Homo sapiens: one gene and its partners. The protein of the gene in region 1 purifies or fractionates together with the protein of each later gene. This does not show direct contact. Each region holds a gene or a part of one and is shown on either strand. Other genes may lie near its edges.

The links. The genes of interacting proteins can lie anywhere in the genome.
Region 2: the proteins of NUAK2 (region 1) and RAI14 purify together in Homo sapiens (affinity purification with mass spectrometry; 2 studies listed by BioGRID and IntAct, with this or other methods). This does not show direct contact.
Region 3: the proteins of NUAK2 (region 1) and PPP1R12C purify together in Homo sapiens (affinity purification with mass spectrometry; 2 studies listed by BioGRID and IntAct, with this or other methods). This does not show direct contact.
Region 4: the proteins of NUAK2 (region 1) and UBXN7 purify together in Homo sapiens (affinity purification with mass spectrometry; 2 studies listed by BioGRID and IntAct, with this or other methods). This does not show direct contact.

What each region holds. Positions count from the first base shown.
Region 1 is NC_000001.11:205,318,912-205,322,889, reverse strand, and holds the start of NUAK2 (NUAK family SNF1-like kinase 2), read left to right. Parts: upstream 1-1,144; 5' UTR 1,145-1,261; coding exon 1,262-1,492; intron 1,493-3,978. UniProt on the Homo sapiens protein: Stress-activated kinase involved in tolerance to glucose starvation. Induces cell-cell detachment by increasing F-actin conversion to G-actin. Expression is induced by CD95 or TNF-alpha, via NF-kappa-B.
Region 2 is NC_000005.10:34,820,307-34,823,851, forward strand, and holds part of RAI14 (ankycorbin), read left to right. Parts: intron 1-1,425; coding exon 1,426-1,544; intron 1,545-2,649; coding exon 2,650-3,545. UniProt on the Homo sapiens protein: Plays a role in actin regulation at the ectoplasmic specialization, a type of cell junction specific to testis. Important for establishment of sperm polarity and normal spermatid adhesion.
Region 3 is NC_000019.10:55,104,114-55,107,658, reverse strand, and holds part of PPP1R12C (protein phosphatase 1 regulatory subunit 12C), read left to right. Parts: intron 1-3,545. UniProt on the Homo sapiens protein: Regulates myosin phosphatase activity.
Region 4 is NC_000003.12:196,359,404-196,362,948, reverse strand, and holds part of UBXN7 (UBX domain-containing protein 7), read left to right. Parts: intron 1-261; coding exon 262-655; intron 656-1,025; coding exon 1,026-1,105; intron 1,106-3,545. UniProt on the Homo sapiens protein: Ubiquitin-binding adapter that links a subset of NEDD8-associated cullin ring ligases (CRLs) to the segregase VCP/p97, to regulate turnover of their ubiquitination substrates.

The DNA.
Region 1 (3,978 bases):
CTTGCAGTGAGCAGAGATCGCACCACTGCACTCCAGCCTGGGCGACAGAGGGAGACTCCGTCTCAAGTCAAACCTCATAACCTACCACCAGTGCTCCTGGCACCAAAATCACAAGAAAACCTTGGGTGGAGCAACCATTTTCAGACTTAGGGACACAGGTTAGATAGTCGGCATGTAAAAATGTTAAATAAATATGTATCCCTTCGGGTTCTCTCCACCTCCAGCCGACACATCCTAAATAAATTCCACTAAGTGGTTGAGGGAATCTACTAAACCTTAGAAGCCCTCTTTTTTTTTGAAACGGAGCCTCACTTTGTTGCCCAGGCTGGAGTGCAGTGGCGCCATCTTGATTCACTGAAACCTCTGCCTCCTGGGTTCAAGCGATTCTTCTGCCTCAGCCTCCAGAGTAGCTGGGATTACAAGCGCGCACCACCACGCCCGGCTAATTTTGTATCTTTAGTGGAGATGGGATTTCGTCATGTTGGCTAGGTTGGTCTTGAACTCCTGGACCTCAAGCGATTCGCCTAAGAAGCCCTCTTTGAGGAAGAAGGAAGAAGTTTCCAGGGCCATTGGATTCCAATATCCAAGTAAGGTTGATCTAACTGAAGACAAGTGAACTCGAACCATAGGACAGCTCTGCACTAACCCTCCCACTAGGCTGGATTCTGCCTCTGTTCCATCCCAGCTCCCTTTCTCCTTTATGGACTCAATGAAGTGGTCAAGCAATTATAGATTTTGGCTTGGGACAAGCAAATTACTCAGGATGAAGAAATACTTTGGTGACCTTTAGTGCCCTCAGATCGCCCCTTGCCAACTGAGAACAGAGTACAATAAAACAACAGGGCATTAAGCAGGACCAAGCGCCACTCAGAGGCAAGTGCAGCTCCAAGGGCCCTCAGAGTAAGCTTCTGGGCCTCAGGCGGCCTTCGCTGGAATCCCCTAGTCCCCATTCCTGGTGGGCGGGTTCCATTGACACCTTTCCCGGCCACGCCGAGGGGGAGGAGGCGGGGCCTGGAGCCCCGGAGAGCCAATGTGGACGGCCGTGGTCACGCGCCGCCGTCGAGCAGGCCAATGGGCGCCGGGGGGCGTGTCCAGGGCCTCGGGCTCAGGGCGTTTATAACAACTTGGAATGCTGTGCTTTACTGCGCGCTCTGGTACTGCTGTGGCTCCCCGTCCTGGTGCGGGACCTGTGCCCCGCGCTTCAGCCCTCCCCGCACAGCCTACTGATTCCCCTGCCGCCCTTGCTCACCTCCTGCTCGCCATGGAGTCGCTGGTTTTCGCGCGGCGCTCCGGCCCCACTCCCTCGGCCGCAGAGCTAGCCCGGCCGCTGGCGGAAGGGCTGATCAAGTCGCCCAAGCCCCTAATGAAGAAGCAGGCGGTGAAGCGGCACCACCACAAGCACAACCTGCGGCACCGCTACGAGTTCCTGGAGACCCTGGGCAAAGGCACCTACGGGAAGGTGAAGAAGGCGCGGGAGAGCTCGGGGCGCCTGGTGAGTGCGGCTCCCTCTCGCGGCGCGGGGCGGGCTCCGGCTTGGCCGCCGGCAGGGAGCGGAGGAGGGCGGGCGGCGGCTCGCTCGTTGCTCGGCGGAGAGGCCAGCGTGGTCTTTACCGCGCTGAGCTTGCGGGGCTACTGCGGGGTGTCCCTGGCAGATGTGTCAGTCCGTGATTGCAGGGACAGTGGTCGCAAACTTGCGAACCCCAGCCAGCAACACCGTACTGCTGTGATGATTGCCAAATAAAAGGGAGGCTATGGATAGTTGGCGCGGAAAAACGAATCGTGTCGTGTCCTGGGATAAGATGGATGGGACTTAAGTTGAGTTTTGCTGGGAAAAGACTGTTCAATAGAGTGCAATGGAAAGAGGAAGTAGAAGGCACCCCATCTTAATAGGTATTTGGTAAATATGTGTGTGGTTGAATGAATGGATGAGGTGTGGATTTCCCCAACTCCAAGAATCTGGCAACCCAGCACACTGGAGCTCTGGCACGGGGTGGGTTTTGACATTTAGGTCCTTTCCAGCTCTAAAATTTAGTTGAAATTTCATTATGATGAGTTTTTGATTCTGGAAAATGTGAAACCAGGTCCACTGTACCAGAGACACCTTTCGGTTTGGGGGCCTTTTCAAGAACATGCCCTGTTACTTTGGTGCGAGCGTAGGAGTCTAGCAGTCTGTGTGACCTTGGGCAATTTCCTTCATCTCTGTACTTTGTTTCCCCTTTTGCAGAACTGTAGAAAACACAGCCTGCCTCACAAGCTGCTGTGAGGATTGAATAAGATCGAAATATGAACTTATATTGCTCCTAACACATAGAACTTGCGGTGAGATAGCCGGGCGCGGTGGCTCACGCCTGTAATCCCAGCACTGTGGGAGGCCGAGGCGGGCGGATCGTGAGGTCAGGAGATCGAGACCATCCTGGCTAACACAGTGAAACCCCGTCTCTACTAAAAATACAAAAAATTAGCCGGGCGTGGTGGCGGACGCCTGTAGTCCCAGCTACTCGGGAGGCTGAGGCAGGAGAATGGCCTGAACCCAGGAGGCGGAGCTTGCAGTGAGCCGAGATCGTGCCACTGCACTCCAGCCTGGGCAACAGAGCGAGACTCCGTCTCAAAAACAAAACAAAACAAAACAAAACGAAACAAACAAAAAAAGAACTTGCAGTGAGAATTTCTGGAAAGGGCAGCCCAGAAAGGATGGCAAATTTGTCAAAAGTTAGTTAGCAGTGGTTAACTGGTTCTCAAACTTGAGTTTAAAGTACGTAAGGATCACCTGGGATGTTTGTTTAAAATACTTACATTCTCTGGTTCCACACCCAGAGTAATTTATTCTGAAGGTCTAGGATAGGGCCATATAATGTATATTTTAACAAGCCTTTTAGAGCAGGTGGTTTAGGCATTATTATGTTTTGCCAAATCCAGTTGGGTGCTGGTTGTGAGGGGGTGTGTGTGTGTGTGTGTGTGTGTGTGTATGGTTTGCCCTATTGGCTACATCAGCAGTTACTTCCCCAGATTGTGTTTGCTTTTGCAGCCAGTAGCTGGTTTGAAATTCAAGAAGTCATTTCATTGGTGAAGGAGAGTGGATGTTGGAGAAAGGGGTAGATTATGGCCCCATCAATAGGACCGAGTATGTTTTTCCTGCTATCGCCTGGCACAGTCCCCAGTTGCCTGCTGCCAGGTTACAGCTATTGGGCAATCATGTACTTCCTGGCTTGCCTTTTCTTTCTCTTTCTGCAAAGTGTGAGGGCCCGGTGAGGCTCCAGGCTTGAGGCTGTTGGACCCAGGCTTTGTCAGGGGCTTAGCTGGAAAATAGCTGCTGGTGGCTTGTGCTTCGTGCCTCTTGGGGGTGGAGACACTGGGTCGTGGGGACTGGGGTGGCCCAGAGACTGAGAAACTGAGATTGAAGTTCAGAGTTCCCATCAGGCTCTTGACCCAGGTCACTGTGGGGTGTGTGTGTGGATGTGCATGAGAGAGAGAGAGTAAGAGAGAGATCTCATTTGATTCCAGAATGAGATAAACTAGCTTTCAGTTTTCAAACTTAAGTGGATTTAGGCAGGGATTCCAGCTCTTATTACATCAGAAGATACTCCCTGGCCTCATGCCTCTTGCTCTATGTAGGAAGCCAAGATCAGTAGGCATGGGACCTGCTGTGAACCTCCCTGATCCATAGACCACCCAGTTCTGCAGCTGGGAACTTGCTCAGGGTCTCCTTCCTTCTTGGAGAGCAGCTGCCTGCTGTGCTAATGGTTTCTCAATTCTGGAGCATTGCCTCTTCCCCACCCCACCCCACCCCTGCCTCTTGACTGTCCTTCGTGAATCGAGAGAGACCTAGTGCCTCAGGATACTTCAGTGCGGGAGAGGGGTGTGGGAGCTTGCCCAAGACCTCCCCTAGAATGAATTGAGATTGTTGGTGGGAGCTAGATTCAGAGGAAAGCCAGCTGGGTGACTTCCATCCCAATTTTCTCTCCACCTTTCTAGCACACT
Region 2 (3,545 bases), on another chromosome or scaffold:
TGGTGGCCCACACCTGTAATCCCAGCACTTTGGGAGGCCGAGGTGGGCAGATCACCTGAGGTCAGGAGTTCGAGACCAGCCTGGCCAATGTGGCAAAACCCCGTCTCTACTAAAAATACAAAAATTAGCTATTACATAAAATTATTGAGATTTTATGTAATAGTTAATTATTGAGCATGCCTGTAGTCCCAGCTACTTGGGAAGCTGACGCAGGAGAATTGCTTGAATCTGGGAGGCAGAGGTTGCAGTGAGCCGAGATCGTGCCACTGCACTCCAGCTTGGGTGACAGAGCAAGACTCCATCTCAAAAAGTAATAATAATATTAAGTTTGGACCAGAAATTCACACAGTTACTTCACTAAGCACATTGTTTTGTTCAGCTGACATATCTTTTGTAGGACTTTCTAGATGAAGGAAGCAGTACATTGCATTGCATTCTGGAGGAAGTTTGCTATCTCTGTGAGCACCTTGAATAGCACTCCTTAAGTTGCAATTTCAGCATGATAATCAGTAGGATGTCCGAAAGTTGTGGTTTACCAACAGGGATTACTGTGGGATTCAGAGAAGAGAAGATAGTTTCATGCTAGGGTGGTCTTTGAATGCTTTAAGGACTGGGCAAAGTTTGACATGATGCTTAAGAATTCTCTAGGCAGAGAGATTCTGCAGGGCAATCCTGTGGATAAAGAATGAAAGAATCAGCCGTGTGTTGAGAATGTAGAGGGTGTGATGGGAACCATGAATCTGAGGAAAATAGGAATCTAGAAAAGTAGCAGTGTCATGAACCTGAAGAAGTAGACTGGAGCCAAATCATAGAGGCCTGAACCCAGATAAAGGAATTTGGAGATTATTTTTGGAGGGAAAACAATTAAAGCACTTGACCCAGAGGAATGACCCAATCAAAGTATGTTTTAGGAAGACTGGTCTGACGTTGCTGTGCAGGCTACAGTTTCACTGGGAAGAAGAGAGAGGCAGAGATTTGTTGGGAAGCTGTTTGCAGAGTTTCCAAGTAAGGTGATAAAGTCTTAACTACAGTAATGGTGGTAGGGGGAAAGAAATAAACCAGATTCCAGAGACATTTCTAAAATGATTCACATAACTGAGACTTACAAGGCACAGGGAAGAACCAAAAACAACCAAGATATGACACTTAAGCAAATGAATAGGAAATATATGACCAAATTCATCAATTTTCAGATTGCCTTGTGTACACATGTATCTAGTATTGTGCTAGCAATACCACAGTAAGGAAACCCCAGTTTCCTTTCTATATAAAATGAAAATTTTAGTTCACCCATCCAGCTGCTAGGGCGTTTTATAATTAGGGCCAGGAAGAAGAACTGGATTAGGCTAGGAAGTGAATTTGTCTCAGGTTAGAGAAATAAGAGTTTAATTGTTTTATATTTTAAATGGCTTTCTCTTTCCCAAGGTGCTGATAGCTTATTGGATATAAGTTCTGAAGCTGACCAACAAGATCTTCTCTCTCTATTGCAAGCAAAAGTTGCTTCCCTTACCTTACACAATAAGGAGTTACAAGATAAATTACAGGTATATAAATAGATTGCTATCATGGACTATTCTGTAGAGTCAAGCTCTTGGTCTTTTCAGTAGTCAGATGTATTTTGTTTTAAATGTGTACATTAGTTTCTTTTTAAATATTAGCTTTAAGCATCTTATAGTTTCAGATTATTTGTTTCATGAGAGTGTTATTCATTAACTCTTTCTGTAAATTATTCAACTGGTAAATTATAAATAATTATACACATAGTATGATCAGTATTAAATATTCTATATGTTTAATAAATTATATAAATAAAACAAAATTTATAGAAAAAATTCTATATAAAATATACTATATGCATAGAATGATGCATAATATATAATTTTATATTTTGATTTTATATATATTAAAATTTTACGTTTTAAATTATATATGTATGTGTGTATGTATATATATATATATATATATATAAAATATTATCCATTTAGTAAAGTTGATCATTTAACAGGTTTAAGTACTTGATAAGAAATGGCTGTACCAAAAAATAAGAAGAAGAAATAGCTGTACTATATATCCATTACCCCTCTTGGCAAGTAGAATGATATAAGAAATAAAGGAAATTTTTGAATTGGAGGCTTTGTAGAGAAAACAATTTTAGTGTTTTCAAAGTGACACAAATCGTCTGTCCCAATAGAACCCAAAGCAAGCTTTGTGTCATTAGTCCCACTCATGTCCCAGACTGTCTTTTTTCATGGCATGAGAATACACAGGCAAAGTGATCATGCTACTCTCCCGTACCAAAGTTGCGGATTTACTCCTCTCATTCTAGTTGCTTGCTTAGCTAACCACGCCTTTGGTATCTTTTTTTTTTTTTTTTTTTTTTTTTTTTTTTTTTTTTGAGACGGAGTCTTGCTCTGTCGCCCAGGCTGGAGTGCAGTGGCGCGATCTCGGCTCACTGCAAGCTCCGCCTCCCGGGTTCACGCCATTCTCTTGCCTCAGCCTCCCGAGTAGCTGGGATCACAGGCGCCCGCCACCACGCCCGGCTAATTTTTTGTATTTTTTTTTAGTAGAGACGGGGTTTCACCGTGTTAGCCAGGATGGTCTCAATCTCCTGACCTTTGATATCATTTAATTCTTGCTTTTTTTTCCTAGGCCAAATCACCCAAGGAGGCGGAAGCAGACCTAAGCTTTGACTCATACCATTCCACCCAAACTGACTTGGGCCCATCCCTGGGAAAACCTGGTGAAACCTCTCCCCCAGACTCCAAATCATCTCCATCTGTCTTAATACATTCTTTAGGTAAATCCACTACTGACAATGATGTCAGAATTCAGCAACTGCAAGAGATTTTGCAAGATCTACAGAAGAGATTAGAGAGCTCTGAAGCAGAGAGAAAACAGCTACAGGTCGAACTCCAATCCCGAAGGGCAGAACTGGTATGCTTAAACAACACTGAGATTTCAGAGAACAGCTCTGACCTCAGCCAGAAACTTAAAGAAACTCAGAGCAAATACGAGGAGGCTATGAAAGAAGTCCTTAGTGTGCAGAAGCAGATGAAACTCGGTCTTGTCTCACCTGAAAGCATGGATAATTATTCACATTTCCACGAGCTGAGGGTCACGGAAGAGGAAATAAATGTGCTAAAGCAGGATCTGCAGAATGCATTAGAAGAAAGTGAAAGAAATAAAGAGAAAGTGAGAGAGTTAGAGGAAAAACTGGTAGAGAGGGAGAAAGGTACAGTGATTAAGCCACCTGTGGAAGAGTACGAGGAAATGAAAAGTTCATATTGCTCTGTTATTGAGAATATGAATAAGGAGAAAGCATTTTTGTTTGAGAAATACCAAGAAGCCCAAGAAGAAATCATGAAATTAAAAGACACACTAAAAAGTCAGATGACACAGGAAGCCAGTGATGAAGCTGAGGACATGAAAGAAGCCATGAATAGGATGATAGATGAACTCAATAAACAGGTGAGCGAGCTGTCACAGCTGTACAAAGAAGCCCAGGCTGAGCTGGAGGATTACAGGAAGAGGAAATCTCTAGAGGA
Region 3 (3,545 bases), on another chromosome or scaffold:
GTGTTCTCATTGTTCATTTCCCACCTATGAGTGACAACATGCAGTGTTTGGTTTTCTGTCCTTGCGATAGTTTGCTGAGTGATGGTTTCCAGCTTCATCCATGTCCCTACAAAGGACATGAATTCATCCTTTTTTATGGCTGCATAGTATTCCATGGTGTATATGTGCCACACTTTCTTAATCCAGTCTATCATTGATGGACATTTGGGTTGGTTCCAAGTCTTTGCTATTGTGAAAAACAGCAGCAATGGAGTTTCACTCTTGTTGCCCAGGCTGGAGTGCAGTGGCATGGTCTTGACTCACTGCAACCTCTGCCTCCCGGGTTCAAGCAAGTCTCCTGCCTCAGCCTTCCAAGTAAGTGGGATTACAAGCACCCGCCACCATGCCCAGCTAATTTTTGTATTTTTAGTAGAGATGGGGTTTCACCATGTTGGCCAGGTTGGTTTTGAACTCCTGACCTCAGCTGATCCACCCGTCTCGGCCCCCCAAAGTGCTGGGATTACAGGCGTGAGTCACCGTGCCTGGTCACATTTTTTTTTTTTAAAGGCAGTCTATGGCCTTATGTAGCTGAAGTCCATATGGGCTCTAGGCATAGCTTGATCCAGGGGCACAAGTGAAGTCCAGAGCATCTCTCTATCACTCTGCTGAACTCTGTTGGCTTCACTCTTAGACAGGTTCTCTCCGTGAGGCACTCAGCATGGGTCCTACTGCAGGCCCATATCACAGCCAAAACACAGCACCTCTTGCCCTGTGCGTGATGCTCACTGGGCCACCTTGGTCAGATGGCAGCTCCTGAGCCCATCACTGTTGCAAAGGTGACAGGAAGGCCTGGTGATGTGCGCACCCTGGAGCCAGGCTATGGGCCCGGTCACATTGAAACCATATGGGGCAAAGTGTGGGTGAGGAAAGTCAAGATGAGGTCACAGGGGAAGGGAGAATGGATTTTCGTAGGCCCAAGCAGCAGCTGTGCTGCAGGGACACGCAGCAGCACCATGTCCTGTGCAGAAGGGACCCTCCCTGGCCACTTTGCACAGGGGCATGGAACTGGCAGGAAGAAGACATGATGTGTTTTTGAAACATTTGAAGCCAGCTCACTTGGAATTCCAGCATCCAAGTCAGCTGGAAGAGGGGGAGTTACCCTTGGAGGCAGGCGGAATCGACCATTGGATAGCTCCAAGTGCTGACAAGGGCGGACACGGGAGCTGATTTCTGCCTGGTGGGAAAGGTGATGATTCCAGCTACTTTGGGAAGTGGTTGGTCAGCATGGATTATAGCCGAAGGCCCCAGCTTTGCCTTGTTCTAGCAGTTCCACTCCTGGGCAGCCCGAGAGAGGCCTTCCCAACCATGGGCAGATGTTCATCATAGTATTGTTTGCAGTAGTAAGAGGTCGGAGCCCACACCAAAGAGGATGGATCAATCACTAAACTCTAAATGAGTGATCTAAGCAGGGGTCAGCAAACTTTCTCTGTAAAGGGCTAGACAATGAATGTTTCAGGTGTTGCGGGACACACCATGCCTGGCACCACTATTCCACTAGTGCTGTGGAGCGGGAGACTGCTAGGGATGGTGTGTGAATGAATGGGAATGACTGTTCCATCCCACGTTTATTGACAAAAATCGCCTTTCAGAATAGGCAAATCCACAGGGACAGAAAGATTGCTGGGTGCAAGGGGCTGGCGGAGAGGGAGGTCTGAGAAGTGACTTTTTTTTTTTTTTTAAGACAGGATCTCACGCTGCCTCCCAGGCTGGAGTGCGGTGGAGTGATAATGGCTCACTGCAGCCTTGACCTCGTGGGCCCAAGTGATCCTTCCATCTCAGCCTCCCAAGTAGCTGAGACCATAGGTGTGCACCACCATGCCCAGCTAATTTTATTTTTCTAGAGACAAGGTCTCCCTATGTTGCTCAGGCTGTTCTCAAACTAGTGGGCTCAAGTGATCTCCCATCTTGGCCTCCCAAAGTACTGGGATTACAGGCATGAGCCATGGTGCCTGGCTGGGAGTGACTTCTTCTTGGATACAGTATCCATTTGGGATCATGAAAAAGCTCAGGAAGTAGATAGTGGTGATGGTTGCATAATATTGGAGGTATCCTAAATGCCACTGAATTGTGCACTTTAAAACAGGGAAGTTGGTAAATTTTATGTTGTTTATTTTACCACCACCACCACAACAAAAGATAAAGAAAACACAACAGGTGGTCAACACCCACAAGCTATAGCTTTCTGACCCCTGGGCAAGGGCTCTGTCTACAGATACAGACAGATCTCAGCAACATGTTGAACACAAGAAGCAAATTGCAGAAGGATGTGCAGCAGACATGCAGAGGGCGCTGACTGTGGTTGAATAAAAAGCCAGTCACCCTCCCTTCCCCTCCCTGAATTGAGACCCATTCGGCTATAATAGGATTGAACAGTTGGTGACTCCTTTAAAGAAATGACACAGCCAGGTGTGGTGGCTCATGCCGGCTTTGGGAGGCCAAGGCAGGAGGATCCCTTGAGCCTGGGAATTTGAGGCTTCAGTGAGCCATAATTGCACCACTGTACTCCAGCCTGGGTGACAGTGTGAGGTCCTGTCTCAAAAAAAAAAAAAGGGTCAGATGCGGTGGCTCCTGCCTGTAATTTCAGCACTTTGGGAGGCCGAGGCGGGTGGATCATGAGGTCAGGAGTTCAAGACCAGCCTGGCCAACATGATGAAACCCCATCTCTATTAAAAATACAAAAGTTAGCTGGGTGTGGTGGCGTGTGCCTGTAATCCCAGCTACTCAAGAAGCTGAGGCAGGAGAACCGCTTGAACCTGGGAGGCAGAAGTTGCAGTGAGCCAAGATCATGCCACTGCACTCCAGCCTGGGTGACAGAGCGAGACCATATATATATATATATGGCCTAAAGTTTACTGAGCAAATCCAGTGCTCAATTACATCTAACTTTTCCTGTCACTACCAATATAATTTTTTTTTTTTTTGGAGACGGAGTCTCACTCTATCACCCAGGCTGGAGTGCAGTGGTGCAATCTCACTGCAACTTCCGCCTCCAAGATTCAAGAGATCCTTCCGCCTCAGCCTCCCAAGTAACTGGGATTACAGGCATAAGTCACCATGCTGAGCTAATTTTGGTATTTTTAGGAGAGACACGGTTTCAACACGTTGGGCAGGCTGGTCTCGAACTCTTGACCTCAGGTGATCTGCCCACCTTGGTCTCCCAAAGTGTTGGGATTACAGGCATGAGCCGTTGTGCCACCCCCCAATATAATCTTAATCCAGCATCTTCATACATTTTATCACCATTACCACTTCTGTCTATATATGTTACATATATAGGAGAGATATATATATAGGTTTTATATATATAGGAAATGTGTATATATAGGTGTTATATATATAGGAGATGCATATATATGTTATATATATATTATATATATAAATATTTTTTATATTTATATTTTTGTATGTGTGTGTGTGTGTATATATATATATATATATACTTTTTTTTTTTTTTTTTTAGACAGAGTCTCACTGTGTTGCCCAGGCTGGAGTGCAGTGGCGTGATC
Region 4 (3,545 bases), on another chromosome or scaffold:
CTGGGCAACAAGAGTGAGACTCCATCTCAAAAACAAAACAAAACAAAACAACAAAAACGTGTGTGTGTGTATATACACACACATATATATATCTCCATTCCAATTTGGCTGTGTAAGACACAGTCCTTGCTCTTAAAGTAGAAGGGATACAGTCAGCAGAACATAATAATGAATGGCAAGCTATTATATTTCTTATGCCGTTTGACTTGTTTTTTGGTTTAACTTGTTCTTTTTCCTGTGTTTTATGACTCCATCTCACAGGAGAGCCTTATAGATGCAAGTGAAGACAGCCAGCTAGAAGCTGCCATCAGAGCCTCCTTACAAGAAACACATTTTGATTCAACACAGACAAAACAGGATAGCCGCTCAGATGAAGAATCTGAATCTGAACTTTTTTCTGGCAGTGAGGAGTTCATATCCGTTTGTGGCTCTGATGAAGAAGAAGAGGTAGAGAATCTTGCCAAGTCCAGAAAGTCTCCCCACAAAGATTTGGGGCATAGAAAAGAGGAGAATAGAAGGCCGCTGACTGAGCCACCAGTCAGAACTGATCCTGGAACAGCCACAAACCACCAAGGATTGCCAGCTGTGGATTCAGAGATACTGGAGATGCCACCTGAAAAAGCAGATGGAGTAGTGGAGGGGATAGATGTAAATGGTAAGTTACATTTAGACATACTTTACTTCAAACTTAGATATTGGGGCCGGGCGTGGTGGATCACTGAGGTTAGGAGTTCCAAGACCAGCCTCGCCAACATGGCAAAACCCTGTCTCTACTAAAAATACAAAACTTAGCCAGGTGTGGTGGCACGTGCCTATAGTCCCAGCTACTTGGGAGGCTGAGGCAGGAGAGTGGCTTGAACCAGGGAGGCGGAGGTTGCAGTGAGCTGAGATCACGCCACTGCACTCCAGCAAAACACTTGAGTAATTGCTGAATGGCTGTATTTATTTACATATTTATTTAAACTAATATTCTGTCTTAAACTCCTGTATCCCGTTTTTTTTTTTTTTTTAAACCCTTCCTTTAGGACCAAAAGCACAGCTGATGTTGCGGTATCCAGATGGAAAAAGGGAACAGATCACTCTTCCAGAGCAAGCTAAACTGCTAGTAAGTACAGGCTTGCTTTGGTTCAGTTCCGACCACTGCAATAAGACGAGTCCCAAATTGTTTGGTTTCCTGGTGCATATAAAAGTTATGTTTACATTATTCCATAGTCTATTAAGTGTGCAGTAGCTTTATGTCTAAAAAAAAGCACATAACTTAATTAAAAAAAGCTTTTGCTAAAAAGTGCTAATGATCCCCTGAATCTTCAGTGAGTCATCTTTTTGTTGGTGGAGGGTCTTGATATTGATGGCTACTGACTGATTGGGGTGATGGGTACTGTGGCAGTTTCTGAAAATGTGACAGCAGTGAAGTTGCTGCATCAGTTGCTTCCTTCGACAAAAAATTTCTCTGTAGCATGTGCTGCCGTTTGATAGTATTTTACCCACAGTAGAACTTCTTTCAAAACTGGAGTCAGTCTTCTCAGAATTTGCCGCAATTTTATCCACCAAGTTTATGCAATATTCTAAATCCTTTGTTGTCATTTCAACAGTGTTAAAAGCATCTTCAGCAGAAGTAGATTCCATCTCCAGAAATCACTTTCTTTGCTCATCCATAAGAAGCAACCCCCCTCCCTTTAATGTTTGATCATGAGATTGCAGCAATTCAGTCATATCGCCATCCTCCACTTCTAATTCTAGTTCTCTTGCAGTTTTTACCCCACTTGCAGTGACTTCCTCCAGTGAATTCTTAAACCCCTCAAAGTCATCCATGAGGGTTGGAATCAACCTCTTCCAAAGCCCTGTTCATGTTGATATTTTGACTTCCTATGAGTTGTGAATGTTCTTAATGGTATTTAGACTGCTGAATCCTTTCCAGAAGATTTTCAGTTTACTTTGCCCAGATTCATCAAAGGAATCTGTATTTATGCCCAGGCTGGTGTGCAGTGGTCATAGCTCACTGTAACCTTGACTCCCCGCCCCGGCTCAAGTGATCCTCCTGCCTCACCCTCCTGAGTAGATCACCACACCCAATTAATTTTCTTTTTTTTAGAGATGGTTTCTTGCTGTGTTGCCAGGTCTTGTCTCAAACTCTTGGACTCAAGTAATCCTCTCACCGCAGCCTCCCAAAGTGTTGAGATTTGGCTCCGTGCCTGGCCAAAATGTGTTTCTTAAATAAGATTTAAAAGTTGAAATGACTCCTTGATCCATGGGCTGCAGAATGGATGTTGGGTTAGCAGACTGGAAACAGCATTCATTTTTATTTGCATTTTCGTCAGAGCTCTTACGTGACTAGGTGCGTTGTCAATGAGCAGTAATATGTTGAATCTTTTTTCTGAGCAGTAGGTCTGAACAGTGGGCTTAAAATATTTAGTAAGTTATGCTGTAAATTGATGTGCTGTCTTTCCAGGTTTTGTTGTTGCAGTTACAGAACACAGACAGAGTAGATTTAACATAATTTTTAAGGGACCTGGGATTTTGGAATGTTAAATGAGCATTGGCTTCAACTGGAAGTCACCAGCTGCATTACCCCCTAACAAGAAAGTCAGCCTTTTTGAACCTTTGAGTGCAGCCACTGACTTCTCTCTAGCTGTGAAAGTCCTTGATGGCATCTTCTTCCAATAGAAGGCTGTTTTGTCAAACTTAAATCTGTTATTTAGTGTTGTTACCTTCGTGAACTGTCTTCACTACATCTTCTAGATAAGTTTCTGCACCTTCTGCATCAGCACTTGCTGCTTCACCTTGCACTTTGATGTTATGGAGATGGCTTCTTTCCTTCAACCTCATGAACCAACCTCTGCTAGCTTCCAGCTTTTCTTTCGTAGCTTCCTTAACTCCCTTAGCCTTCATAGGATTGAAAAGAGTTAGAACCTTGTTTTGGATTAGGCTTTGGCTTAAGGGAATGTGTGACTGGTTTGATTTTTCTGTACAGACCACTAAAACTTTCTCCTTTTCAGCAGCACAGCAGTAAGGCTGTTTTGCTTTCTTTCCTTTTTTTTTTTTTGAGACAGAGTCTTGCTCTGTCACCCAGGCTAGAGTACAATGGTGCGATCTCAGCTCACTGCAACCTCCGCCTCCCGGGTTCAAGCAGTTCTCCTTGCCTCAGCCTCCCGAGTAGCTGGGATTACAGGCGCCCACCACCACGCCCAGCTAACTTTTGTATTTTTAGTGGAGATGGGGTTTCACCATGTTGGCCAGGCTGGTCTCGAACTCCTGACCTCAGGTGATCCACCCACCTCAGCCTCTGAAAGTGCAGGTGTGAGCCACTGCTCCCGGCCTGTTTTGCTTTGTTATCATTTGTGTGTTCACTGGAGTAGCACTTTTAATTTCCTTCCAGAACTTTTCCTTGCATTCACAGCTTGGCTGTTTGGTGCCAGAGGCCTAGCTTTGTGTCTGTCTCAGCTTTCCACGTGCCTTTCTCACTAAGCTTCATCATTTTTAGCAATTGATTGATTTTGAGGATGGACACTTCCTTTCACTTGGGTACTTAGAGGCCTACACTGGTA